4 linked regions of the Homo sapiens genome follow. The protein of the gene in region 1 interacts with the protein of each later gene in a pairwise test. Each region holds a gene or a part of one and is shown in the gene's direction. Other genes may lie near its edges.

Region 1 (7,027 bases):
GTTTCAATCTAGGCAATCTGGCTCCAGTATCCATACTCTTACCCTAAGGTAAAATCTATGAGATAATGCACTTAAAGTGCTTAAAATAGGATCTAGCTCAGAGGAAGTATCTAGTAAATATTGGCTCAGTAGTTATTTATTGCACCCACATTTTTTCACTGAGCACCTAACATGTGCCAGGAACTCTGCTGGAGCTAGAAATACAAGGATGAGTAAGTCCTGGGCACTGTCCTTAAAGAGCTTGTGGTTCTTTACTCTCCTACAAAGAGTATGATTCTCTCCTCCCTCTAGTACAATCCAGTAATGGCCTTCTTTCTGTGAATTTATCATAGCTATTCTCCACCTCTCTGGTCTTTAGGTTTGAGGATCAGGCAGAATATTTAATGCTATAAAATCTAAACAATTAAAAGTTAAATAAACCTGGGTGTGGCTTTGAATTATCAATTAGTGCACTGCATAGTGCTTGACACACAGTAAATTAAATACTTAGAGAATGAGTTAATATTAAGGCTAAATTTTCCCATAAATATATAGGGTCATAAATTCAGTTGTTTGTACAAATTTAACAAACATTTGTTGAGTATCTAGGAGAACTATAGCTATTCTGCTAATTTCTATAGGAAACACAATAATATGAAAGACAGGTACTGTCTGCCAAAGAGTTGACTGTCAGAGAACTAACAGAGGTTAAGTAGAGAAAAGGTGTTATGAATCAGTGATCATTTTTCATATATTTTGAACACTTTAATGCCATATAATCCCACAAAATTTATTTTGCTGACTTAAAAATATAACTTTGAAAAACTCTTTTTTACTGGTGTCCCCAGTGAATGATAAAAGATTGGTTAAAGCCACCTAAAGTATAGTTACATGATTCTTAACCTCATAGATTTAGATAAAGTAATAAAACTTTGAGTAATATAAAGAATCTACTGACTTTGCACAGTTTTGACATGGTGGGAGAGAGTATGAGGCACAGAATTCTTTATAGACCCTTGGAGGCCACTAAATACCAGAATGCTGTGCAAAAAAAAGGTAACAAATGAATTTTATATAAATAGCTTCCAAGTGGCCGGGCATGGTGGCTCACACCTGTAATTCCAGCACTTTGGGAGGCTGAGGCAGGCAGATCACCAGGTCAGGAGTTTGAGACCAGCCTGACCAACATGGTGAAACCCCGTCTCTACTAAAAATACAAAAATTAGCTGGGCGCGGTGGCAGGCGCCTGTAATCCCAGCTACTCAGGAGGCTGAGGCAGGAGAATTGCTTGAACTCGGGAGGCGGAGGTTGCAGTGAGCCGAGATTGCGCCATGGCACTCCAGCCTGGGCGACAGAGCAAGACTCTGTCTCAGGAAAAAAAAAAAAAAAGCTTCCAAGTGTTTCTGAAGAGCATTTTAATTCTTTTGTAATAAAACTAACAAGAGCTATGTATTATGAATCTTGCAAGTATTTTATTTCTTTTCCTTTTTTCCAGTCTAGAACTGTTTTAGCCATTTATTTTGTGATAACATTCACATTTTCAATAAACCAAAAGTCATTTGGAGTTCAGGTAAATTAGTTTCTTCTTTCATTAAGAAAGAAGTTTTGCAGTATAGTATGTTGTGTTAACATCTAAATATTGTGAAAATAATAAAAATAGTTTACTCCTTTTTCACAGTAGTATATTCATTTTTTTATATTTTAAAAGTTCCATTTTGGCCAGGTGCCGTGGCTCACGCCTGTAATCCCAGCACTTTGGGAGGCCAAGGTGGGCGGATCACGAGGTCAGGAGTTTGAGACCATCCTGGCCAATATGGTGAAACCCTGTCTCTACTAAAAATACAAAAATTAGCCAGGCATGGTGGTGCTCACCTGTAGTCCCAGCTACTCGGGAGGCTGAGGCAGGAGAATCACTTGAACCCGGGAGGTGGAGGTTGCAGTGAACCAAGATTGTGCCACTGCACTCCAGCCTGGGTGACAAAGCAAGACTCCATCTCAAAAAAAAAAAAAAAAAAAAAGTTCCATTTTAAGTGGAACAGGTTAAACTATGCCAAAGGGATGCGATCAGCAAAATCCATACTGGGACAAACTATAGACTGACCGTGTTATTTCATCAAATAAATTGGAAGGTAAAAACTTGGAGACAGAAGAGATTTAAAGGAGATTTGTAATATTGTCCTCCGGGTTAGGATACTTGTGCTCGTGTCTCTTAGTTTCCGCCTTGTTCTCGTTCCTGTGACTCTTTTTTAAAAAAATCTGTTAAATGATGAGGTTCGATCATGTGATTTCTAAGGTCATATCCAACTCTGAAACTCTGAATATGCTGGTAATATGAATAGAATCAGATGAAGGAAGGGTTGGTGGCATAAAGCCTGATGGTGATCACATTTGCCTCTGGACATGTGTACTTTCCATGTTAGGTCACCCCACTCTAAGTGCCATCCCCTAAAACACAGCTTTTTCTGATCTCACTCTAGGTGTCATCCCCTAAAACCCAGATTTTTCCAATCTCTCTGTAGGTGTCAACCCCTAAAACTCAGGTTTTTCCAAATGTGAACCACCTTCCACACCTTCCAGGACCCTTCCCACAGAGGTTGCAGAGCACAATAGTTCACAGGTCCTGGAATTAGACTGCCTTTCACAAGAAATGTGATGTGAAAAGTTATGCACCTTAATTTTCTAATCTGCTAAATACAGTAGTCTGCAAAATAGAGAGACATTGTGGGGATTAAATGAGATGATGCATGTAAACTACTTAGAACACACAAAAAGAGAGGCTTTAAAAAGATATATGAGCCAGTCACAATGAATGGATCATGTTTAGATACTAATTCAATTAAACTTAAACAACATTTATTATATTTTTGAGACAAGCTTAAATTTGAATACTGCCTAGATACTTGATGATATTAAGGAATTCTTAATCTTTACAGACATTGTAATAACATTCTGGCTACATTTAAAAAAAAGAGAGAGCCTTGTTCTTTTAAAGATATATACTGAAATGTTTAAAGGTGAAATGAAAAAAAAAATCCATTTTAAAAAAGTGCCCTGGAGAAAATTCATGTTTCTTTTGTGGCTAGCCTCTACTTAACTCTCCAGCCTTATTTCTCAGAGCAGCTAACTCCTAGCTACCCTAAACTCCTTTTAGTTCACTGAGTGTGCCATGCTTTCACTCACTGAGCTCTTTGCCTGGGATCCCTCCTCCTTCTCCTCCCTCCTCTTCCTCCTCCTCCTCCCTCCTCTTCCTCCTCCTCTTCCTCCTCCTCCGAGCCCTCCTCCTCCTCCTTCTTTCTCCTCCTCCTCCTCTGAGCCCTCCTCCTCCTCCTTCTACTTCTTTCTCCTCCTCCTCCTCCTTCTTCTTCTCTTCCTCCTTCTTTTTTTTTTTTTTTTTTGAGACAGGATCCTGCTGTGTCATTCAGGCTGGAATACAGTGGTGCAATCAGGGCCTACTGCAGCCTAGACCTCCTAGGCTTAAGGGATCCTCCCACCCCAGTGCCCCTTCCACCCGACTAACTGAGACTGAATGCACATGCCACCACACCCGGCTAATGTTTTTACTTTTCATAGAGCATCTATATGTTCTATTTTTTTCTATGCCTTTTTATTTTTTTTATTTTTATTTTTTGAGACAGGGTTTTGAGACAGGGTCTTGCTCTGTCACCCAGGCTGGAGTGCAGTGGCATGATCTCAGCCCACTATACTGCAACCTCTGCCCCCTGGGTTCCAGGCATCCTTCCCACCTCAGCTTCCCACACAAGCCACCACGCCCGGCTAGAGCATCTCTAATTGGCATTCATTCATCCTTCAGTTTTGGGTCTGATGACCCTTCCTCTGGGAATCCTATCCTGTCATCCCTAGGCTGGGTTAAACACACTGCCACTACATACTGCTGACACTAATTGCTACACTGTGTTGTAATCGTCTATTTTTCTGTTTCCCCAATGGACTATGATTTTTTTTTAGACGGATGATTATGTACTTTAAGTCTCAAGAATTAGAAACAGTAATGGTTTCTAGAAAGATGCTAAGAGGCTAGACAAAGACAGCAGTTGTAGGAATGGAGACAGAGGCAAGACTTAAAAGAGGTTGAAATAGAATGGACAGAATTCATTGCCTGACCAGGTTTGGGAGGACAAGGGTGGAGAGGAGTCAGAGACAATCCAGAGGTTTGTAACATGGAAGCTTAGCCAAGATTCAGAAAATAAGAGGCTTAAGTAAGGGAAGTGATGAGTTTTCATGAAGACATTGTTTGAAGTTTACTGTAATGTGATTCTGAGAAACAAATGTTTAGTTACAAACAGTACAGCCTATTTTAGTTTTAAAAAAGCACTGAATTTAAAGCCAAGAGTCCTAGATTCCAGTCCTAGCTTTGCCGATTATTAGCTTTATGACTTTGAGCAAATCATGTAACCATTTTAAAGCCAATTTTTTTCTCCATGAAAATGCTTGATAATACTTTCTTTACCTTCCTCTCAAAGTGGTTATCAAAGTAGTATCAGTCATAGGTGATGATTTGCATACAACAGAAAATAGAAGTGAGAAATGAAATGTTGGAATTGGAAGGAAAAAAGGTAATGAGTCATTATTATATGTATCTGTTTTTAATTTAGCATTGATCAGAAAAGGAGGGTGAAGTGGGCCCTGACAAAGTTTCAGAATAGAAGGACTGAACATGGCCAGTAAAATTTTAAGCTACTCTATAAATAAAAGGATTCAATAATATTTCCAGTCTCTATCTGCTGCAGATAAGAAGCCAACTCCAACAGGTGGAAGAGTACCATAACTCTGAGCAGGAAAGAATGAGGAATGAAATCTCTGACCTAACAGAAGAGCTTCATCAGAAGGAGATCACTATAGCAACTGTCACAAAGAAAGCTGCCCTTCTGGAAAAACAGTTAAAAATGGAATTAGAAATAAAAGAAAAAATGTTAGCAAAACAAAAGGTATGCAAGCAGGCAGAATAGCACTTGTCTAGGGCACATTCTTGCTCAGTGCCAATAGTAGCCTTCATTATTGACTAATGAAAACATTACATTTCTTGGTATTATTTCTGAGACTAGCTTCACAGAAATGCTTTGTGGTGTTACATAAAACCTTTCAGAGATAACACAAAGTGTCACCAACAAAAAGGACTAGGGAAATGACAGTGCAAGACAATTTCATTAAATCTCATCTTTCCATTTTCTTGTAACCTATATTCTGATCACCTCCCACAGTACACTCTAATCAAATATTTCTTCCTGAGTATGTTTTTCTGTATTTCTCTTCCATTAACATTTTTATCTTTAAAAAAAAGTCTCTATTCCAGCTCTTCTTCAACACTTCCTACCCCTCCCCCACACTTCATGTATTTCTTTCAGGCTTTTTACAAATGGATGTTGAAACATGAAAATTAGTTCATATTTACTGAACATGCAGTCAATGCACAGCATGGTACGTGAGGAAAAACAGCAATTGTAACATTCTTCTGTTAAAATACTACAAGTAACTTCTACATCCTTCCTTTCCTTCCTGCCTATTTATTTTTTAAATTCCCTCCATCCCTTACTCATGATCAAATGGATGGCCTACTATTGAGAGCACAGGGTTTATCTGCTTTTTTACCCCAAATCTAAAGGTTTTGAGAGCATCATTTAATAATTTTCTAGGCATATGAGGGTCACTTCACAAATAACATGACTAAAATCGTGAATTATGAAAACAGAAAAGATTTAGCCTTTGCCCAGTTGTAAGCCTTAAACCGTGATTTATTGTTGCAGTACACAGGAAAACAGCACAGATGGGATAATCTCTTTGGTTGTACCTGTATAGGCAGGGATATTTTACAGGTGTTAACAGTGATCTGGCTAGTTGGATTATGAATAATTTTTATTTTCACCTTTATATTTTTGTACGTTTTCTAGGTTTTGTCAATGAGCATAAATTGGTAATTTACAAAATTAAATCTTTTTAAGGCACGTGTTTTATACAGAAATGAGTCCTAGAGAAGTAAAAGGACAGATACCATATCCAAGTCCTGTCAAGTAGAATAAATCAGGGAAAGATAAAATAAATTGAGAGACAAAATGAAGTAGTCACTAAAAAAGATGGAATTTTGGCAGAAATATCAGAACAAAATTAAACATGAAAGTTATGTATTGCCTATTGTAAAAATTAATCAGGTGTTGAATAAATTTAATGGACAGTTACTCAAACATGCTTTTAACATGTGCTTTTTCTGGTGACAATTTGCATACAATAGAAAATAGAAACCAGAAATGGAATTTTGGGATTGTAGGACAAAACTAAATGAATCATTATTGAAAGTATATGCTTGTAGTTTAGCATTGATCAGAAAAAGACGTAAAGTGGTGCCTGCCAAAGACAGGAGAACTAAATAAGAATACCTGAATGTTATTGGTCGTACCGAAGAAGTGTTTCCCTTCATTACACTTAGAAAATATTTGTATTCACAAGACAAAATTTTAATAGAATTATGAGTTTTTATTATGAATTTTACATTTGCCTTTTATCTGCTAATTTCAGGTCTCAGATATGAAATATAAAGCTGTCAGAACTGAAAACACACATCTAAAAGGAATGATGGGAGATTTAGACCCCGGAGAATACATGGTAATATGCTGACATCATTCAATAAATTGAACAAAGAGATTACTGAATTGGTCACGATTAACCTAGACATCATTTATTGAGCACTTGCTGTGTGTTAGACATGAAGGAGTTGGGTGGTAAATTATCTTGTGCTTCAGTTGAGGTTACTTTTATCCTCAGGCTAGAACATTGGAATGTCTGGTTTTCTCCCTTGTTCTTTGGTTGGATTGGGCTCAATTCTGATCATTTCCCTCAAATATGCCAAGCATGCTATTTCCTTGCTTTTCTTCTTGCTGTTGCCTTTGAAATCCTACATCCTATGTGGCCTGATTCAAGTGCCAATCTTCCCCTCAACGAAGCCACCCCTGAAACCCCAGTCAGAATGAATGCCACATTTAGTTCGTATTTTGTTCTGACTTGTTTTGTTGCTTGTCACTTTCCCAGTGGATGGCAA
Region 2 (7,027 bases), on another chromosome or scaffold:
CACCTACAAAGTATCAGTAAGAATCTGGAAATGCTTCAGGGCTCAGAGCAGACCCTTACTTAAGAAATTATTTTTATTGCAGAGTTGTAACAGTGTCATCTTAAAAAGTAAATATTTAAGTGACTAAGCAACATTTTGTAAAAGTGTAGGGAACTGGCTTGAATTATTTAAAGGGGAAGAAAGTGAGCTGTCTTTATAAAACTCACCTTTTGGCCAGGCATGGTGGCTCATGCCTGTAATCCCAGCACTTTGGGAGGCTGAGGCAGGCAGATCACTTGAGGTTGGGAGTTCGAGACCAGCCTGATCAACATGGAGAAACCCCGTCTCTACTAAAAATACAAAATTAGCCGAGTGTGATGGTGCATTCCTGTAACTCCAGCTACTCAGGAGGCCGAGGCAGGAGAATCGCTTGAATCTGGGAGGGGGAGGTTGCAGTGAGCTGAGATTGGGCCATTGCATTCTAGCCTGGGCAACAAGAGCGAAACTCCGAAACTCCATCTCAAAGCAAACAAACAAACAAACAAACAAACACTCACCTTTTAAGAGTAACTCACTTGTTTCTCAGCTCTAAGGATTTAGCCTTGACTTACAAGTAGGCAGCAATGATTCTGGTCTGAACAAACTTATATAAACTCCATCTCACCCTCACTCGTACTGCACACTGAAGATGCCTGTCAGTAACCTGAAGAAGTACAGTATGTGCTGTGGTTTATGCTTTCATTTGTTATTAAAATGATTGCTTGCTGTTAGCCTGGCCTATTTCTGTGATGTTTGGGCCTGTTGGCTTGCTCTGGTTCCTAAGGCTGGTGCAATTAACCAGGATGGGGGCGTTACTGTAAAAACACAACAGGAAGGCAGATTCCATTACAGTGAACCTCATAGGGGTATCCAAATGCTCTGGTATGAGAATTTGGTGGTAATGGTTATTATTAGAAATCACAGCACAGCTCAGAACCACCGTCCTCTGCCTGAGTTAAAAAACTATGGTCAGGGGAAATGGGAACCCAGTTTTAATAGAATCTAGGCAAGGGAATTCCTTGGCAGGAGCTAGTTTAAATCATAAAGGGCGCCTGTTCTGTCCAAAGCACAGTGTCCTGTGTCCTCAGGCCACTCAGATTGAGAAAGGAGCACACAGAAGCTACGGTTGTGTCAAACCGCCCCGAGGGAGAGACCCAGGCAGAAATCTTGGCTCATTGGCAAGCCACTTTGAAAATCCAGATTAAAGAGAAGCACTACAAAATCAACAACTGTCAGAGGGCTTTTCTCTATGATTTAAAGTTGACTGCCAGATTGATCTCTTTGAACATGTGCAAAGTGGCAATCAGATGTTGGAGGGCTTCTTTGGGCTAATATGGTAAATGACTTTGATATGGACAGAAACTGAGGACAGAGGTGCAGAGCAAGGCTTAGTGCCGATTGACAGCAGCACTGAGCTGAAGCTTCAGAAGTAGGGAAACGACTGGAATGTTTCTGGTTTTCATTCTTTGGGCCAGGGGACAGGTGGGTGAGGACAAGGCCGTGGTCTAGGCAGTGATGGGGGTGTCTCTAGAGAGTTATTTGCCCAAGGAAAGTACTTTGGCTTTTAACATTTAAAGGGGATTTTTTCTTTCTTTGACGTTTCTGCCTTTCAGCCTTCATTCATGGAGTTTCTTGCTTTTACAAGAATAAGGGCTCAAATAAAAACAGGGAGGGAGACATAGAAAGTTTGCGAGATGGCAAATTCAGCCCCATTTTGAAGCAAGACTTCTGTTTTGTTGGTTTTAACTCCAGCCCGGGCCTCTTAGCAAAATGCCTGGGCTTCATCTGCCTTTTGGGTGACCCCCTCTCCCTGTCCATCAGAGGGTCACCACAGCAGTCTCAACATGAGGATTACTGTGTGGGGGGTTTGATGTGTACCTTTCCAGAGGGGCCTTAGCTGGCTTGCTGTGTCCTGGAGGTCTTAGGTGGTTCTGCTGTGTGTTCTTTGAGCTTTGGTATTAACACATGTGCTGCCTCTGAGATTTGTCCATCCTTTTCCCTCCCTGGAGTCAGGTCTAAAGCTTCCAGTGAGGCGGGCAAAACATCTGCCGCACTCCCACCCCTACTCCTGGCTGCTGGTGGTTTGGGATGAAGCCACTGAAACTCCCTTGCAAGGCCACACCTTGAGAAGATGGGCCGGTGCTGGGATGCCTCTCACTTTCTATTCTGCTTGGTTTCTGGGAGGAAGCTAATGACATAAGGGGCCTAAAGGCTTTCTTAACTGGTGACCTGGAGTTTAATTGTAAGTGGGTCTTTCGGGGCAGCAGTTAGGAATGTATGGATCACCTTCAGTCATCTGCAGGGAGACTTGGACTGGAAGTGGGAGAACTGGCTCCACTGGACTCTGAAAAAGGCTGTGGAGTTTTCATCTGCTGCTGATTTCATCCACTGTCCCAAAAGTTATCTTGGCCACAAACCTTTGATCTGGGAGTGAGACCCCTCGCCCGATGCTTCTAGGGCAGGAGTCAGTGACTGCCTATACCCGCTGTTCTGTGTAGATGGGAGAGGGTGTTAGTTATTGAGTAGGGCTGAGTACTTGGGGTGATTTGGGGTGGTTAGGCATGATTGGGGCTTACACACTGGAGGGGTCATGTGTAGGCTTCTTGATGGGGTTCTTTCAGGAAGGAGGAGGCAAAAGAACAGTTTTGCTTGTTTCTTGGTTGTTCCTGACTCCATCCAGGAGTGTGACTGGAGAAAAATTCTTCTGAGTGTATCGGTTAGGCTGGCTTTTGGATAGATGGTCCCCGGTGCCCATTTCTATCATAGGCTCTGCATTTCAGTAGGAAGATTCTAGTTCAGAGGCGACTGCCTCTGTCTTCTCATTTGAATCTCCTTAGTGGAGAGGCAGGAGGCAGATTAGCCGAGTGCAGAAAGACCAAGGGGCTTAATCTGATAGTTGATCTCAGCCCTGCATCCCCTGAAAAAGTCATATAAGTGCCTGTTCAAATATGGAAGTCTGTCTCCCTTCAGTATGCAAACATCGCTTTTCAGAAGCATTTAAACTCCTGAAAGTCTATAAAAACCACATATGTGTAGACATGAACTGAGCTGCTCCCCATGCTTCCAGTCTCCTGAGTGGCCTATTTCTGATGACTTCTCCCTTCCCAACATCTTTGTCCCGTGGAAGTTGCTGAAGAACACATGGGTGCCTTTCTTCTCCATCTCCCAACTTCTCTTTTTTCTTTTTTTAAACAATTGTTCTTAACTACTCAAGAAGCAATGCAAGCCTCTTCCACCATTTAAGGCCCTGCTTCCTAAAATGCTCTTTGGCTCAAGGCCTTGGTTCTTAATGTACATTTGGCCTTGACTGGAGGAATGGTTTCTGCTTCCCTTTTAACAGCTCCGCTTTTTTTTGTGGAGTATCTGCATCAGCGTTAAAGTGTCAGGTCAACTTTTGGACACTTTAGAAGAGGCTCATGGATTTCAGTGTGTGCGGCAGGAGGTTGGTGTCACTACTCAAGCGACTGCTTTTAAATGCCATCTCTGTTCTGATGGAATCTTGAATAGTGTCCCCTTATGTTATTTGATAACGTAATTGAGATGGGCATTGATGAAGACTTTCAGTCTGTGTAACTGACTATATGAATGTGTGTTACCTGGGCCCCTGTTGGTTTGTTTTTCATAAGATAGTATTTTGCCCACTTAAAAAATGTTGTTCAAGTAAAGAATGGCAGAAATGACGGTAGTAGGGTCACCTCAGCCCTGCACACCCTTTTTTAACGGAGGCAGTCGAAGCTGGTTTTTCCTTCAACAGATAGGAAATCCAGAGGTATATTTGGGGAAAGCAGAGAACTTTTACACCTTGTGGGAAAGGACTGTCAATATATTTTGCCCTTGCTGGTGAAACTATAAAAATTGTCCAGACAGTGGAAAAATTGGGTGACAGAGGAAATCCTGGTGCGGACTCCCAGATGTGTAACTGGAGGGAGGTGTGGTCTTCCTCATTGTTTGTTTGAAGGTAGGAAATAATTACAGAATAAAACAGGGCAGGGTCTGGCTGAGGACCAGAGCACTGCTTGTGAATCCCCTTCAAATGGGGACTCAACAGTGAATGGGAGAAGCAAAGGTGAATCAAAAAAGCCCACTCTTTGGAAAGGTGGCCTCTGCTCTTTCCTCTGCTATGGGCCTTACACCCTCTGCTGAGGCCATCAGTGTTACACCCTCTGGTGAGGCCTGAGCTGTGTGACTTTGGACCAGTAATTTAACCTCTTTGGGCCTCACTTCTTTCGTCTGTAAAATGGGCCTAATGCATACCTTACATTTGTAGTGGGAAGTAAATGAAATAGGAATCAGGGCTTCATACCACTTCACATACTGAAAAGCTTCTCCGGATATTGGCTGCCATCTCCACGCCCTTTTCATTTCTTTCTTTGCTACTGATGGCCTCTGCTACCTTTCGTTTCTTACCACCTTGGAAGAAATAAACTAAAAGGTCCAGCAATTCTCTTCTTCCCCATGGGGTGGAAATAGAGCCAACTCCTTTTGACATCTTTGCAACCGTGTTCAGAAGTGAAAGAGTCTGAAATAGTTACAGTGTCCCCCATCCACCCCAGCCCTCCCCTTCTGTCCCCCTCCCCAGGCTGGCAGGCGGCCCTCCAAGTGAGCAGCCTACTCAATGACCCACCTAGAGAGGCCTTCCCCGGCTGGCTTGTGTATGCTAATAGGCCTGACTTGTCCTGGCTTGTTTGTAGTGATTTGTGGAGGCATTTATATGCAAATACTATCAACTTGCAGAGTTAATTATCATGTGCCTCCCCTCTACCCCCTCCTGCTCGGCCTCCCAGCCTGGCTGGGCTGTTCTCATTCAGCACCACGCTCTTCCTGTCTTGGCCTCGCCTGTCCCTTGCCCTGTCCCCTTCCTATACCTGCAGGCCCCATCACAGCTCCTTTGCTGCTCCGTTGCCTGTCACAGGCACCCAGGCCTAGCCTGTGTGGTCAGGCATGGTGAACTGGGCATGCCAGTGACTCCCCCAGTTCAGACTCTCTGTTAGAGGCCTACTCTTGCTTGTGGGGGAGCCTGCCTTATGTTGCTTTGAGTTTTAAGCCCCATGTTTACCTACTAGCTTGAAAAACAGAGCTGCCCAGACATAATCAACCCTTGACACTCAACCCAGTCTGGCGACAAAGCGATTATAGTTTTTAAATTATTAGTAGTATTTTCATTTCCTCACATTGCTTATACCGCTCAAACTTATGACCAGTTCCGAGCTCTGGAGAGAAGCCATTTTGCAAAGGGATGTCCCCTCCTGCTCCTGGATATCTGAGTATTAAAAATTTGCTTGGGTTGTGCATGGTGGCTCATGCCTGTAATCCCAGCACTTTGGTAGGCCTAGGCAGGATTGCCTGACCTCAGGAGTTTGAGATCAGCTTGGGCAACGTGGTGAAACTCCATCTCTACTAAAAATAAAAAAATAAAAAAAGAGATACTTGGGTGGATCTCAGGCCTGGTCACTTCCTGGTTGTGTGTTGGCACTGTTGATGTTTGGGGATAATTGTTTTTGGGGGGAGTGGGCCACCTTGTGCATTGTAGGACATTTAGTATCCCTGGCATCTCCCCACTAGATGCCAGTAGCACCTTCTTCCCTTGATGTGACAATCAAAAATGTCTGCAGGAATTGCCCACTGTCCCTTGGGGAGGCAAAATCGCCTCCAGTTAAGAACACCTGAAATAGAGGTTACATTTGCTTCTCCTGGTCTAAAACAATGGCAGGTTCCCGGCCACTCCCCCCATTTAGACACCTTCACTGCAGCCTGGGAGTTGAGCAGCCTCTGCGTATGTGATTCCACCTGATACCAGATGATGCTGTTTGCTCAATTTTACACTGGTCTTTTTGGCATTTAAAAATGAAGAATCTGGGCTGGGTGTGGTGGCTCAAGCCTGTAATCTCAGCACTTTGGGAGGCAGAGGCAGGCGGATTGCTTGAGCTCAGGGGCTTGAGACCTGCCTGGGCAACATAGGGAGACCCTGTCTCTACAAACTTTTTTTTTTTTTTTTTAATTAGCTAGGCTCGGTGGCATGTGCCTGTAGTCCCAGCCACTCAAGAGGCTGAGGCAGGAGGATCTCTTGAGCCCAGAGGTTTGAGCCCAGGGGTTCGAGGCCAGCCTTAGCAACATGGCAAGACCTTGTCTCTACAAAAAAAATACAAAAATTAGCCGGGCGTGGTGGTGCACGCCTGTATTCCTAGCTACTCGGGAGGCTGAGGTGGGTGGATTGCTTGAGCCCAGGAAGTAGAGGCTGCATTGAGCCGTGATTGTGCCACTGCACTCCAGCCTGGGTGACAGAGTGACATCCCGACTCAATAATAATAATAATAATAATAATAATAGTAATAAAAAGGAAGAGTCTTTCCTTTTAGAGCATGGTAATGTGCTAGCACTTGAGGTGGTAACATTTGCACCTCTCTAGTGCTGTCCAATAGAGAGAGAGAGAGAGAGAGTACAAGCTTATATGTAATTGTACATTTCCTAGTAGTCATTCATAAAAAGTAAAAAGAAACAGGTGGAATTAACTTTAAAACAGATATTTTCAGCAACCCACGATTTCACCATGATGTTCTGGTCTCAACGCTCAGAACCAGCCCCATGTCCAGTGCTCAGAAGCCGCGTGCAGTTGTGGCCGTCATATTGGATGGCTTAGTTCTCAGATGATTCTGGGCCTTTGCAGCCATGACGTCAGGTCGTTTTCTACTGTTACTGAGTCAGGGAGGAAGTTTTTTTCTTCTGTTTATTCTCTGAAAGGTAAGGCCTTCCTTGGCTGCACAGCTGCAGCTGAGAAGCGGATTCTGAAGGGGCAGGGTCTCTAATCTCTAGGGAAGCTCCCCCAGCCTCCACAGTGGGGAAGCCCTCTAGACAGGATTTTGGGCTGAGCCTGGATAGTTGGGGGGGTGGGGGAGTCAATATCCCGAGGGCCCCGTGGACTCTCGCACCACACAGACTAATGCTTCAGGTTAATTTTGTGTACAAGGTCCCTTTTGTTGGACAAGGGGATGAAAGTCCACAGCTGTGACTG
Region 3 (7,027 bases), on another chromosome or scaffold:
TGAGAAGATGGAAGCCTGAATTCAATTCTGGTGTGTTCTTGCTCATCAAGTGGTCTTACTCATCAATTCACTTAACTTCCTGAATCTAATTTTTTTTTTTTTTTTGAGATGGAATTTCGCTCTTGTTGCCCAGGCTGGAGTGCAATGGTGCGATCTTGGCTCACTGCAACCTCTGCCTTCCGGGTTCAAGCAATTCTCCTGCCTCAGCCTCCCGAGTAGCTGGGATTACAGGCATGCACCACCATGTCCGGTTAATTTTATATTTTTAGTAAAGACGGGGTTTCACCGTGTTGGTCAGGCTGGTCTCGAACTCCTGACCTCATGTGATCCACCCACCACGGCCTCTCAAAGTGCTGGGATTACAGGCATGAGCCACCATGCCTGGCCTCTAATTTTTTTTAATCTATGCAGATACTACTTTCCCTGCCTAACTCACAAGATTGTGAAGTTAAATTAATACATTTTGGAAGGGATTTTAACTTTTTACATGTATTTTTCAAATATAAGGTGCCAGTATTATAATTTAATGTAATGTTTAAAGCTTGTTCAGTGTCTTCCCAATACAAAATCAGCCATCAGAACTGTGTTTCCGAACAGGGATTGGCATTAATGGTTTTGAGGTGTAGAAAACATCCTCTTAAAATATATTTTTAAAATATTATGACAAATTTTACAATGAGCAACCTGAAGAAGATTGGCACTTGTTAAATGTTACAGTTCTCCCACTTCAGAATGGAACTATCCATTTGCTTAATTTTTTTTTGAAATTCTAGCATTTTAAGATTGGAATAAATTAGAACAGGAAAACATGTTTTTCAAAATTATGTAGTTTTAAGAGTGGAATAAATATTAAATCAGGAGTTCTTAATCTTGGGTCCATTTATGGACGTTAGTAGTTGACCTGAGAACTCTCTAGAAATTACCATAAAAAAAAATGATGCACATATGCACATTTTTGTGAAGTGTGGTCCCATAGCTTTCACCACATTCTTAAAAAGATTGATGACCTTAAAGTTTACAAACAACTGGCTGGGCGCAGTGGCTCATGCCTGCAATCCCAGCATTTTGGGAGGCTGAGGCGGGTGGATCACTTGAGGTCAGGAGCTCAAGACCGCCTGGCCAACATGGTGAAACACTGTTTCTACTGAAATACAAAAAAATTAGCCAGGAATGGTGGCAGGCGCCTGTAATCCCAGCTACTCAGGAGGCTGAGGCAGGAGAATCGCTTGAACTCGGGAGGCAGAGTTTGCAGTGAGCCGAGATCACGCCATTGCACTCCAGCCTGGGCAAAAGAGTGAAAAACAAACAACAACAAAAAAGAAGAAAACAAAGAAGTTTACAAACTACTAACTAATTTAAAATATGATCAAAATTAAAAACCTAGCTTGTCTGTAGAGCCAGGGGCTGACAGTCTTGGGCCCAGCCTCTGGCCTCCGTGGGTACCCAGCTTCAGGCAGCTTGGCACCAAGCAGCGAGTGCCCAGCTATGTTTCATCCAGGAAAACTGCACCTGAGTACATGCCTCGTTCTCCACTTCATCTAAGCAAAGAAGAGATCCTACAAACAAGAATGTGAGTAGCCTCAGGTTCGAAAAACACAGGCTGCATTTTATTCACTTCTTACTTCCTCGTACCCAGCCCAGGGCCTGGTGACCACCAGACATTCTATATGCTTCATTAAATGAAATAAAAGAATGGCAGCCCCACTGTTCTGTTAATTCACCTAAATATTACTCTACCTCTCCGAACTTCGGTTTCCCCATTTATAAAATGGGGGTGAAAATAGAACCTTCCTTGTGGGACTGTTTCAAGGATGAAACAAATAATGCATGTAATCACATTTTGTGAACTCTACCTCACTCTATAAATGTAAAGACCCAGAAAATACAGAGACTGCTTTTGTGCAGCAACTTCTCAGATGTGCCCAGATATTATCAACATTTTAATGGCTAAAAAGGCCATGCCAGCTTTCCCACTGTGATAGTCTTCTATTCAATACAGTAAATATCCTAAATTACAGGCTTGTTCATGGAACTCCATAAAGATATTCTTCTTTTAAATGAAAGAAAAAGCAGTGACAAAACCATGTGCCCCTAAGTCATTTCCCATTTCCTGAATTGGCTCAGGTGCAAATAAGTTTGCTTGCCACTGCCCTAGACGGCTCAGAAATAAATTATGACTCTGCTACAATCTTCATTCTTGACATTGAACATTTGTTTGCTTCAGCATCTGGTAACAAAAGGGCTTCTCCTGGTCTCACATATGGAGCTAATAGCTTCCTTGATATATTAACTTTTCAAGATTAACACACACTCACTCTAATTTCTGTAGACAACTAAGAAAATGAAGAAGCTGGAAAAGGACACAGCCACATGGAAAGCCCGATTTGAGAACTGTAACAAAGCTCTGTTGGACATGATTGAAGAGGTGAGGAAGTTTCTCCCTTAGCTTTAATCCCCTCTGTCTAGTCAAAACATTCAAACTTACGATACAATTATAACCTGGTAATAGTACAAATGGTTATGTGTGAAAAAGAGTTGAATTTGGGGTGGCAGGATGTGACATTTTAAATTGTAATAAGTATAATAAGAGCAAAGGTCATTTAGAATCAGGTCCAGACTCAGAAAGAGTTTTGTGACCCTAAGTCACATGCTTACCTGTTGATTCAATAGCTGTACCCAGGGCAGCTGTCCCCTTTAAGGGCTGTGAATTCCTTAAAGGTAGGATGAGTGTCTTATTTTACTTTAAATTTCCCCAGTGTCTGACACATAACAGGTGCTGAATAAATTAATTAGTTGATTTGAACATACTGCGAGAAGACACCAGCCCAAGAGTCCAGTGCATGTGCTATTTTCTAATATAAACAGATATGGAGATATCTTTTTAATTCCTCCAATAGACATTTAAACACTGATCTCATGCCAGGCTCCAAGTAGGTTTTGAGAGTCCAAAGGCAAAGATACATGGCCCCTGACCTGAGAGGTAGGGCTTACAGGTGAAGGTCTCTCCATGTATAACGAGTGGGGGAAAAAAGGTCTCAAAGGGACAGAGTAGCTCAGAGGTGAGGTGAAGGAGTGAGATAATTAGGAACATTTTCATGCACAAATAGACATTTCTAGAGGAAAAAACTGAACCGTTTGAGCAGCCAGCATCGTGAATTAGTATATGGTGAATTTCTATGGTTATAATTACTGCTCTAACAATTCTTCTCAAATTGCAACCAATTCCAAAGAGATATTACTCATCAACATAAATCAAATGGCTGCTGGGATTAGCACATAGCAGTTTATTCATAGAACAGATAAGGAAGGCATTGCTGAAACCCAAGTCCCAATCCATCTCATTTATCTTGCCGCAAGTCTTGCTTCTACCTTCTAAGTCTCAGAAGCAGAAAATTCATCCATAAGATTTGAGAGGCTATGGACCAAAGCAGAAGGAAGCCTGACCATCTTTCTTTCCCAATGAACAGGGTATGGTGATTAAAGAATCTACCAGTCTAGTACACAATGCCAAAAAAAAAAAAAAAAAAGGAAAGTGATGTCCATGACCAAGCATCTGTTCAGCCCCTACTCTGTAGCCAGGTCCCAGAGCCTAGTAGACAAATTCTGGGACAAATAGTTTTGCTTGTTTCCAGAAAGCATCCTGGACATTTTGCTTATCATGTCATTTCATCTGTGTGTGTATGTGCGTGTGTTTTCACATCACAGAAAGCACTGAGAGCTAAAGAATATGAGTGCTTTGTGATGAAAATCGGGAGGCTAGAGAACCTCTGCCGTGCTTTACAAGAAGAGAGAAACGAACTCCACAAAAAAATCAGAGACGCAGAAATATCTGAAAAGGATGACCAAAGTCAGCACAACTCCGATGAAGAGCCAGAGTCAAACGTCTCTGTGGATCAAGAGATTGACGCAGAGGAGGTTAATAGTGTCCAAACCGCCGTGAAAAATCTGGCCACAGCCTTCATGATAATTCATCATCCAGAGTCAACCCCGCACCAGTCCAAAGAAACCCAACCCGAAATAGGCAGTTCTCAGGAGAGTGCTGACGCCGCTCTCAAGGAGCCAGAGCAACCCCCTCTGATCCCTTCACGGGATTCAGAGAGTCCCCTGCCTCCCCTAACTCCTCAGGCTGAAGCCGAAGGAGGCAGTGATGCTGAACCTCCCTCCAAGGCCAGTAATTCTCCTGCCGGGTTGGGAGCAGAAACCCAATGCGAGGGTCTCCCTGTTGGAGCACAGGCTGATCAGGCGTCCTGGAAGCCAGAGGCAGAAGCTTCCGGTCAGGCCCCACAGGCTCCCACCGAGGCCTCCCTACAGAAGATGGAGGCAGATGTGCCTGCTCCAGCATGCGCAGCAGAAGAGCACGTTGCAGCCATGGTGCCTGCATGCGAGCCCAGTAGGCAGCCCCCACGAGCAGCAGCAGAGGAGCTGCCAGTAGGGGCCTCAGCTGGGCCCCAGCCGCGCAACGTGGCTGACACCAATCTGGAAGGCGTCGACTAAGCCTCACCGTGCCTTCAGAGGCTTCTTCCTGCCTCTTTGCATATTCAGCATAACAGCTTGTCTTCCGAAAAAGGCATTAAGGGCTAGAGATGTCAAATGGAAGAGACTTAGGATCAAGACATTTTTTAATGTTAGGCAGAACACATTCATTCAGACTTTGCTATTTGTTGTCAATTTATAGCTGATTTGAAGGTTTTCTATTTAACACTGGTTGACAGTATAATTTTCCCAAAGGGCAACAAAACATACAGATAGCAAATTTATATTCCTTTTCTGTTAAGATAATACTTAAATTTGTTAATCACCAGTAAGATTTGATGTTTAAAGACTTCCACTGCAATATATAAATACTGAAAATGTGATGTTCTGCTTATTTGGATATATAGTTTAACAAGTTCCATAGTAATTTATGGATGCCCAGGTTACATTTAAACTATACATATACATAATATATACATACGTGTGTACTTATTATATGTATATATACACGTATGTATAGATGTGTGAATATTTGTTTATATACATATATGCACGTATCTATATGTATATATAAATGCATTATTACACATACATTTCTCTCACCCCTTAATGCATTTTTCTCAATGCAGAATATTTAGATGCTAATCAAAAAAATGATCTCTTACTTGCACTTGAGACTATGGTTGACTAATGCTCTATAAATCCGAAGAGAGTTCGGACTATAAGTATTTAGGCTATCATTATGTTGGGCAAAAATAAGTAACCCAATGGTAGATAAATGAATTCAACCAGTTGATCAAATGGCAGAAAAGCAGTTAGACTACAATCTGTGCAGACAGCATGGACACAAAGATGACCACAAGGGGCCCAAAACAGAAAAGAGAAACACAAGCTCACCTCTTGGAGCTGCTTCTCCTACACTTCTCAGCCCATTGCTTTGCCACCCCCTCATGTGCCAGGGCATCCCATTCCAGGCTTCCTGCAAGGAAACGGTTGGAAGTGGGAAAGGGGAGCTAGGGATTGAGGGGTTAAGGGACCTCACACTAAGAAGGGGCTGTGCTTTGATCCCCTGCCTCTTGCACTACCAATGTCTCAAGACATAATATTCATCTCTTGCTGTCAGACCCATTCTATATTCTAAAAGCTTCTGCTCCTTCCTTCCCAATTTCTCCTTTGTAGCAGGAAATTACACCCAGCCCTCATCTCAATTAATGCTAAATAAAGCTATTGTTTTTCCAAAACACAAATCTACACTGGGTCTCAATATCAGTGATGAGGCTTACAAACCAACACGTTTTCTGCCATGAGGATTTCTCTTTAGGCCAGAAGTACAAAACAAAAAAACCAATGGATTTTAACCAAAATGATTTGAAATATAGGTGAGGATTCAGGAGAAGGCAAAAGCTAGAAACACTTGGGGTTGTCAACATGAGTATTACATTAACATTGCTTGATGAGAACCTCTAATGATACTGACAACATAAATTACCTAGGGTAAAGGATAGCTGCAACAATGAAACAGGAAAGAAGAGAGGGAGAGAGAGGAAAGGGAAGGAAGAAAGGAAGGAGGGAGAAGGGAAGAAAGAAACAATGTCTAACCCAACCCTATCTTGAAAGTTGAACTCAAGTAGAAAAATGGATAGAAACAAAATTCTCTAGTACTCATCCAGGAAACCATTCTTCAATGTTGCATGTGGCTGTTTGCCAAGGCACACAAAGTGCTTGTAGGCAGCAACCATATGCTACAAGAATTGTAAACTGCATACAGTTTGTTTGAAGTAGACAGTGAGGATAATAACAAAGTTGCTAGGCAGGAAAAAAAATCAGGAAAAAAGCTTGTCGCTATTTGAGAATCTGTATATTTTTAAAGGCTTAAAATATTATAACCACAGGGTATCCAGCCAAATTCAACATTACTGCAAGTCTTAGAGATTTAAACATTCATTTGATTCAGAGCTAAATATTCACCATAATCCAGGAGGGTCTCCTTCCCCACTGCAGAGGCAGAACGTCCAAGAATGGAGTAAGATTAGTCATAGTAAAGTCTCAGTCTGAATATTTAGCAAGAGAAACAGGCAGCAGAGGAACCCAAAGGCAGTAAATCAAATATTCTAAAACCCAAAGTTCATTATTTTCATCCAAAAGACTTTCACAGAAACACATTACTCACAGCCATGTATATCTTGGACAGAGTTTCAGATGGAATGACTTGTCTGAAATTTGTAAAGCTTAATATAGGTTTTGGGGGAATTATTTTAATATTCAAAGAATGTTTTATTATAGTCCTTTGTGTTAAAATTTAGCCTTACTAATTATAACAATAACTCATAAAGTTCTAAATTCAGAAGGAATGTCTGTTCTTTATCAAGTGTATGTAACTATTTTTTAGAAATGCCATCTACTTTCTAGAAACACTAAAGTTATTGTTTTCTAAGTTAAATAACTATAATTTATATATCTATTAAAAAGGTACTTCTCTTCCCAAATTCTCTAGTACTCATTTTATTTTTTTAACTTTGACTTATTTTATTTTTGTTTTTATTACTTCTATGTT
Region 4 (7,027 bases), on another chromosome or scaffold:
TCCCATCTACTTTGGAGGCTGAGGCAGGAGAATTGGTTGAACCCAGGGGACGGAGGTTGCACTGAGCCAAAATCGCACCACTTCACTCCAGCCTGGGTGAAAGAGTGAAACTCCATCTCAAAAAAAAAAAAGAGAAGACGAAAAGAAAAAGAAAAGAAAAAGTTTAAAATTTCAATGAAAGCCAGTTTATCTGTTTGGTTTTGTTTTTACATATCATGGTTTGGGTGTTTTCTTAGAGAAATTTTATAGTTTTAGCCCTTATAGTTACTATGATCCATTTTAGTTTTAGCTCTTATAGTTACTATGATCCATTTTGATTTAGTTCATATTTATTTGTATCATGGAAAGATCTCAGAAAGCATGCTAAGTGATTAAAGCAAATTGCAAAGTGATATGAGCAGTACAATACCATTCATGCAAAATTTAAAAGCGTGAAATACCATCTATTATTCATAGCTATACATGCACATATAGGTTAAAAGTTTCACAGCAGAATTTTGATAGGGGTTGCCTCTGAAGGGAGGAGAGGAAAGAACTGGAACAGGAAAGAACTGGTGGACAAAAATATTGCAAATTTTTCTGCAATATTTTTAGGTTGAAATACATTTGACACAATATGAAGTTACCAATTTGGGGTGGTTAATTATGTTGTACTTTTTAGTTTTCTGTATTTTTTTTAACTTCTCAAAATACACATACACACACACACACACACACACACACACACACACACAAATGATTCAAAGTAAGAACCACAGAAAACAATCCATTTCTGTTGAGTTTGGTGGCCACACGGTTGAAGCACTGCGGTGGGGTGTCGTGCGTCCAGCCTGTCCACCTGTTCAGGGCCAATTCTGTTTGTATATGGGGTTTCTAGCTGAGAAAGCTAGAAGAAGGATAACTGTCTTCATTTGAATTCACTCTCACACTTTGGCTTCTATTTTTTCCAGTTTTGCTTCCACAGAAAACCCTAGTCCACCTTCCACACTCAGTTCCCGTTGTGCTGAAGAGCTACAGAGCCCACATCTCAGTGAGCGGCCCTTGATTAGTTTTCTCCTTTTATTTATTTTATCCCATTGCTCCAAACTTTCTCCACAACTATACCAGGGCCTCCCAAGGAAAGCTTGGTTTCTGTTTACCATGTGTCCTTTCTCACCTCGTCCCCGCGGGGTGGCCCCGGACAGCCTTGCTGTACATGTGCAGTGCATGTGGCATGACTGGCCCCATGGCCCCGCTTGCAGCCTGCAGCCGAGCTCCGCACATGCTCAGAGCATGCCCTGCAGGAAGTGGGGTCACAACCTGCAGAGTGCACACTGCCACCCTTGGAGTCAAGGGGTTGTTCCCATGCCTCCCACTGGCAAGCTGTGTGGCCTGACACAACGTCTCTTTCCATTCTTCTTCTTCTATAAAATGGACATAAAAATATATACCCTGGCTTGGTATGGTGGCTCACACCTGTAATCCTAGCACTTTGGGAGGCGAAGGCGAGCAGATTGCATGAGCTCAGGAGTTAAAGACCAACCTGGACAACGTGTTGAAACCCCGTATCTACTAAAAATACAAAAAATTAGCCCAGCGTGGTGGCGCACACCTGTAGTCCCAGCTACTCGGGAGGCTGAAGCAGGAGAATCTCTTGAACCTGGGAGGCGGAGGTTACAGTGAGCTGAGATCGTGCCACTGCACTCCACCTGGGCAACAAAGCAAGACTCTGTCTCCAAAAAAGATATATACGTATATAAATATATACATACACACACACACACACACACACACACGTATGTCCTTTCCACTCACAGGTTGCCGGCAGCAGCGGGGGGAGGGGTCCAAATGAGAACATGTACATGAATGTGTTTGCAAACAAAATGAAAGCTGTTTGCATGTTACTTCCTGCCCTGCAAGCCAAGCCCTTCTAGAGCCCTGGCCCAGTCACGCAGCTCACTCTGTCTCCACCACTCTGTGCCAGCCTCTTCTTTCCCTCCCATTCTTGGTCTTGTTCTTAGGATGTTCTCTCTCTCTGCCCTGCACGCCCCCTTCCTTTTTTCCTTTTCTTCCTCTCTCCAGTCTTGGAAGCAGCCTAACTCCTTCCTTTCAAGTATGATCTTGTACCACTGAACTGAGGCCCACTGGCTGGCTCTGGTTGATGGAGAAAAAGTACTTTCTTCCTTCCTCAAAGAGGTCAGGTACTTGAGATAACGTATTTTCTGTCTTTGAATCTCCAGGCTCAGGCCACAGGGTCACCACATACATCGCCCACCCATGGAGGCGGCCGGCCAATGCCCATGCCAGTGCGCTCCACGTCTGCCGGCTCCACCCCCACCCACTGTCCGCAGGACTCGCTGAGCGGAGTCGGGGGAGACGTGCAGGAGGCCTTCGCACAAGGTGAGTTTCTGGAGCAGAGTTCAGCGGGGAGCTGAAGGGATGTGCAAACACGGACAAGATTCCTGCTGAGGTTTTTTCCATTTCTGTTTTGTGCTCTTTGCTTGGAATGATCAGATTTTGACAGACAGTGTAAATAAGTCAGGTGCTGGCCCCTTCTCATGAGACGGGCTGGTCTCCAGCGGGAGGGCTGCAGGCTTCCTATGTGTGCCAAGAACAGGCCTCCTGGGGTTCTCTGCCCTTTTTTCTGGATTATTGGAAGTGCTTTGTCCTTTGGGCTTTGTCTCCTCCAGAGGAATTGGATGGAATAATTCCCTGGCCTAGAAGGGACTGTAACAGGCACTGTAACTGGGACCGTGCTGAAAGCACAGTATGCACGCCATTGTCACAGTCATCGGGGGAGCTGGTGACCAGCAGTATTAAGTAGTTGGGTGGGGATTCAGAGGGAAGTCCTGCTGGGGCTGGAGGTGAGAAGGGGAGGTGGTAGTGGTGGTTGTGGAGAGTACAGCCCCACCCCCACAAGGCTGAGGAAGACCTCGGTGGAATGCTTATTCTGGAACCCAGCTCTGGATTGTGTGGTGGCGGCAAAGCGTGGAGTTGACAGGATGCTGCTCCCTAGGTAGAGAGGGCAGAGGGAGAGGGACCAGTGGGCTGGTGCCTCCTGCCCCCGGTGTGCCTGGGAATGGGTGGAGCTGCTGTGGCCCCATCTCCCCTTAGGTGTTCCACACCTGTGTTCTCGGGCCTGGCAGAACTGAGGCATTTGCTCAGCCGTCTCTTCTCCACGCTCACCCACCCTGGCATCCCCATCTGCTCTGCCTCTCCTCAGGTACGAGGAGAAACCTCCGCAATGACCTGCTGGTGGCAGCTGACTCCATCACCAACACCATGTCATCCCTGGTGAAGGAGCTCCATTCAGGTGAAACCCAGAGCTCCCAGCCAGCTTCCTGGCCTCCCCTGCCTTGCCCGCGCCCTTCTCACTTCCTTGCCAGCACCGGCAGAACCTCACCACCCAGCTTGCACCACCCCATTTCATCACCTAACTTTGCCTTCTAGGAACACACTGGATGTCTCCACCCAGAGAGCCTCTGTCACACAGGATCGCGTAGGGGCGGTTTCACATTCAGGCCTATCTCAGGAGTGCATCTTGTGGAGCAAGCTGAATGTAGAGAAATTCAGACCTTTCAGTGCAGGCAGGCCCCTTCCTCACTTACCTCGTCTTCCATCTGTACTTTGTCCACAGCCGCTCTCTCCCTAGGCCTGACCGACCACCTCATTCTGAAACTTCCCTGGAGGTCTGGAGCGGAATCAGCCAGGAAAGCTCTGGACCTTCCCCTGCTGCCTTTCTGCTCTCTCCTGTTTGATTTGTTTTTGAAACCTATTCCCTCCTTTTGTCCGTGACCAGGCTCTGATTTCACCTGAAGTTCATGACCTGAGTCTGTCGCCTCTTCTGCTCCTTGTGTTCAGCTCATCTGTGACTTCTTTCTCAGTCTCTCCATCACCTCACCAATTCAGTGACTTCCCAAAGACCTTTACCTCGTGGCATTTCACCTTACATAAAACCCAGGAAAGAGAGAGAAAATAAAAGGCCATTCACGTATCCTCCTATCTCCAGGAATCCCCATGACTCTACCAGTTACGTAGGGGCCAGAGAGTCACTAACGATTTCACAGCGGTGGGGTCTCCATGTTTTGTGTTAAACTAATGGTTTCCCTCCCTAAGCGCTGTAGGTCACTCACACTGATGGCTCTCTTTTGTTTCTTTCCACCTAATGTAGTGCTTTTAAATACCTTGAAGTAGCTTAACAGGATTATTAAATAAAAAGATAAAGCAGTTTTTCCACGGACGATTCAAACACATACACTTATTCAAACACTCTTAGGGAAGGCAAGCCTTGGGTATTTTTCAGCCCTTCGTAGGAGAAAGCTCACATGTTTAGGGTTGTCATGGGACTGGACAGAGCCCCCAGCTCTGCTCTCAAGTCTGCCTGTTTTCATACAGACCAAAGTGAGTGTATAGCCCAGCTTCGTCTTTCCAGTCAGTTAAGGTCAGACGCTGCCTCTCTTGTTTGATGGTGCCACCCTCTCCATTCTAGCACTGTTTCTCAACCCCCATCAGAAGCACGGCCCCGCTCTGTACACATAAACAGAAGAGGCGACAGCCTTCAGGATGACCTCACAGGTGATTAGAAGGCGCTTTCCCTAATGCAGCTCCCCACAGATGTCAGAAATCCCACTTTTAGAGGAAATTTCTCAGGGAATTTCGGGCCATGGGAATTAACTACACTTGTACTTCATGGCCACTTATTAGAGTTTATGCAAAATAAGTGGCTTCTGCGTTCATCGTGCTAGGGTGAGAGGTCATTAAATACCATTAAGTGGAAAGCACATAGAGACCAAATAGCTTCACAAAAATGTAAAGCTTATAGGAATCCTCAGCAGTGTCTCATAGTAAGAAAGGATGGTTTCAACAAAATTATGTAGTGTAATTTGGAAGGTGCCTTAGAGAGCACATTGTCCAGTCCCTTACTTTAGAGATGTAGCCTGTGCTTATCAGAAAAGTGGTCTGCCTAAGGTCGTGCAGCTTGAAGGGGGAAAGCTGGTCCTAGAACCTGGGTCTTCAGAGCATCAAGCCAGAGATCTTACTCCCCTCCAGGACAAGATAGCAAACCCAGAGTCCCAGAGGCCCCTTTCCCTGATGCTGTCCTCTCAGTCACTGAAGCCTGTAGGTAGACGTGGACCAAAGCCACACATGGCACGGTATCCCTCTAACATGCAGACATAAACTCCCTTTACATGTGAGGGTGCCAATTTCTCAGTGAATGGAATAGCTTCACCCATCACCAACATGTTTTTACTGTCTCCTTGACAGTGACTTGACAGGTTTTTGTTCCAATGAGAGGACATACTCAGATTATCTTTACATATATTCTATACAGTGTATACATACTGTATATACATAGCTTGTAGTCCTCATCTTTATAAAGTTTTTTCACAGATAATCGAATCCTAGAATTGGAAAGGATCGAGGCCACAGGCACAGTGGCTCACACCTGTAATCCCAGCACTTTGGGAGGCTGAGGCAGGTGGATCACCTAAGGTCAGGAGTTTAAGACCAGCCTGACCAACATGATGAAACCCCGTCTCTACTAAAAATACAAAATTAGCCTGGCATGGTGGTGCATGTCTGTAATCCCAGCTACTCGGGAGGCTGAGGCAGGAGAATCGCTTGAACCTGGGATGCAGAGATTGCAGTGAGCCAAGATCGCGCCGCTGTAGTCCAGCCTGGGCAATGAGCAAAACTCCATCTCAAAAAAAAAAAAAGAAAAGAAAAGAAAAAAATTGTAAAGGATGTTAGAAGTCATTTAATCCAACTCGCCACCCAATAAAACAGTCCTCTGAATATTTCCAGCGAGCTCATTCATGATCAACTCTAATCACTGGAAACTTCTTCCTCAGTGGGGAGCCAAAATCTCACTTTCTGTAACTGATTTATCCCTGTCCTCTCAAGCTACCCAGGATAAGCTCAGTCCCTCCTCTGCAGGCTCGCCTTTCACGGGTTGGATGGCAAATGACAACCCTTCCTAGTTTTCTCCTCTGTAGACTGCTACACCCAATTCCTTCAACCTTTCCAAACGTGACATGGTTTTCTCTTACCAGCCTGCTTGACCATACCAGGATGTGGCCATTTTCCAAGGCTCCTATTCAAAGTACATGCCCAGGGCCCAGCACCCTGCTCTCCATCACAGGGGATCTTGTCCCTGCAGAGCACAAGGCATCTGTGACCCTCTTGAGTGTCCCCTGGAAAAGCACCTTAGACGGCATTAGCACTTCCCACATAGCCACTTTGCACTGTGCGGTCATTTTAAGTTTATCATCAGCTAAAACATACGGAATTTTTTTTTTTTAACAGAACCCCGTGTTAATCTAGGTATTCCCCCACCATATATTGTATGGTCACTTTCTTAAACCTGAATGCAAGACATTAGATGTCTCCCTGGTCATCACCACCTGAGGGCAGACAGGCATAGAACAGAGGCACGCAACCCCACACTGCACGCCCCCAGCCCTGGTCAGGAAAGTGAGCGATGTGACCGCACTGCTCCCTTTGGGCTGTGGTCTTACGGGCTCCTATTCAGCAGTGCTGGGGCGTGGGCCGCACAAGTGCAGACTGGTGAGCTGAAGCACCCTCAGAGGCCTGCAGCCAGGAGCTGTTAGCTAGAGTTTCCTCCCAAGCCTCAGCAGTTGCTTTGTTCACCCTCCTTCTGTACTTGTCCTGTGCCGAAGGGTCACTGGCCTCCTTGGACTTGTTTTCACAGCAGAGGAAGGTGCAGAGGAAGAAGAAGAGAAGATGCAGAATGGGAAAGACAGAGGTAAAGGCAGCTCAGCAGGACTGCTCGTTTAAATGGGGAGCCCGAGCTCATGGATCAGCCGCCCCCCACTTTGTTTCTGCATTCCTCCCTGCCACCACCTTTCCCAGAGCTTTCGGACCCGAGGTCCCTGTACCTACTTTTCCCATCTGACAGTCAGGTTTTACCTTCCAGGTGACAAGGTCAGTCGATCACCAAGAGCTTCCTCATTTCCTGATCCTGGGATAGGTAGTTGGGATACAGGAAGTAGATACAAGTAGAACACAAAAGATGACCCTTTGACTG

What was found.
Region 2: the proteins of DEUP1 (region 1) and ZFHX3 interact in binary tests that used the Homo sapiens proteins (3 or more experiments, as listed by UniProt).
Region 3: the proteins of DEUP1 (region 1) and TXLNB interact in binary tests that used the Homo sapiens proteins (3 or more experiments, as listed by UniProt).
Region 4: the proteins of DEUP1 (region 1) and DTNB interact in binary tests that used the Homo sapiens proteins (3 or more experiments, as listed by UniProt).

Annotation. Positions count from the first base shown.
Region 1 is NC_000011.10:93,389,732-93,396,758, forward strand, and holds part of DEUP1 (deuterosome assembly protein 1), read left to right. Parts: intron 1-4,711; coding exon of another isoform or gene 4,712-4,727; coding exon 4,728-4,925; intron 4,926-6,507; coding exon 6,508-6,594; intron 6,595-7,017; coding exon of another isoform or gene 7,018-7,027. UniProt on the Homo sapiens protein: Key structural component of the deuterosome, a structure that promotes de novo centriole amplification in multiciliated cells.
Region 2 is NC_000016.10:73,038,105-73,045,131, reverse strand, and holds part of ZFHX3 (zinc finger homeobox protein 3), read left to right. Parts: intron 1-7,027.
Region 3 is NC_000006.12:139,239,993-139,247,019, reverse strand, and holds the end of TXLNB (beta-taxilin), read left to right. Parts: intron 1-2,329; coding exon 2,330-2,425; intron 2,426-3,705; coding exon 3,706-4,494; 3' UTR 4,495-6,959; downstream 6,960-7,027. UniProt on the Homo sapiens protein: Promotes motor nerve regeneration. May be involved in intracellular vesicle traffic.
Region 4 is NC_000002.12:25,383,554-25,390,580, reverse strand, and holds part of DTNB (dystrobrevin beta), read left to right. Parts: intron 1-2,219; coding exon 2,220-2,379; intron 2,380-3,202; coding exon 3,203-3,292; intron 3,293-3,429; coding exon of another isoform or gene 3,430-3,482; exon of another isoform or gene 3,483-4,219; intron 4,220-4,468; coding exon of another isoform or gene 4,469-4,518; exon of another isoform or gene 4,519-4,554; intron 4,555-5,370; exon of another isoform or gene 5,371-5,515; intron 5,516-6,691; coding exon 6,692-6,745; intron 6,746-7,027.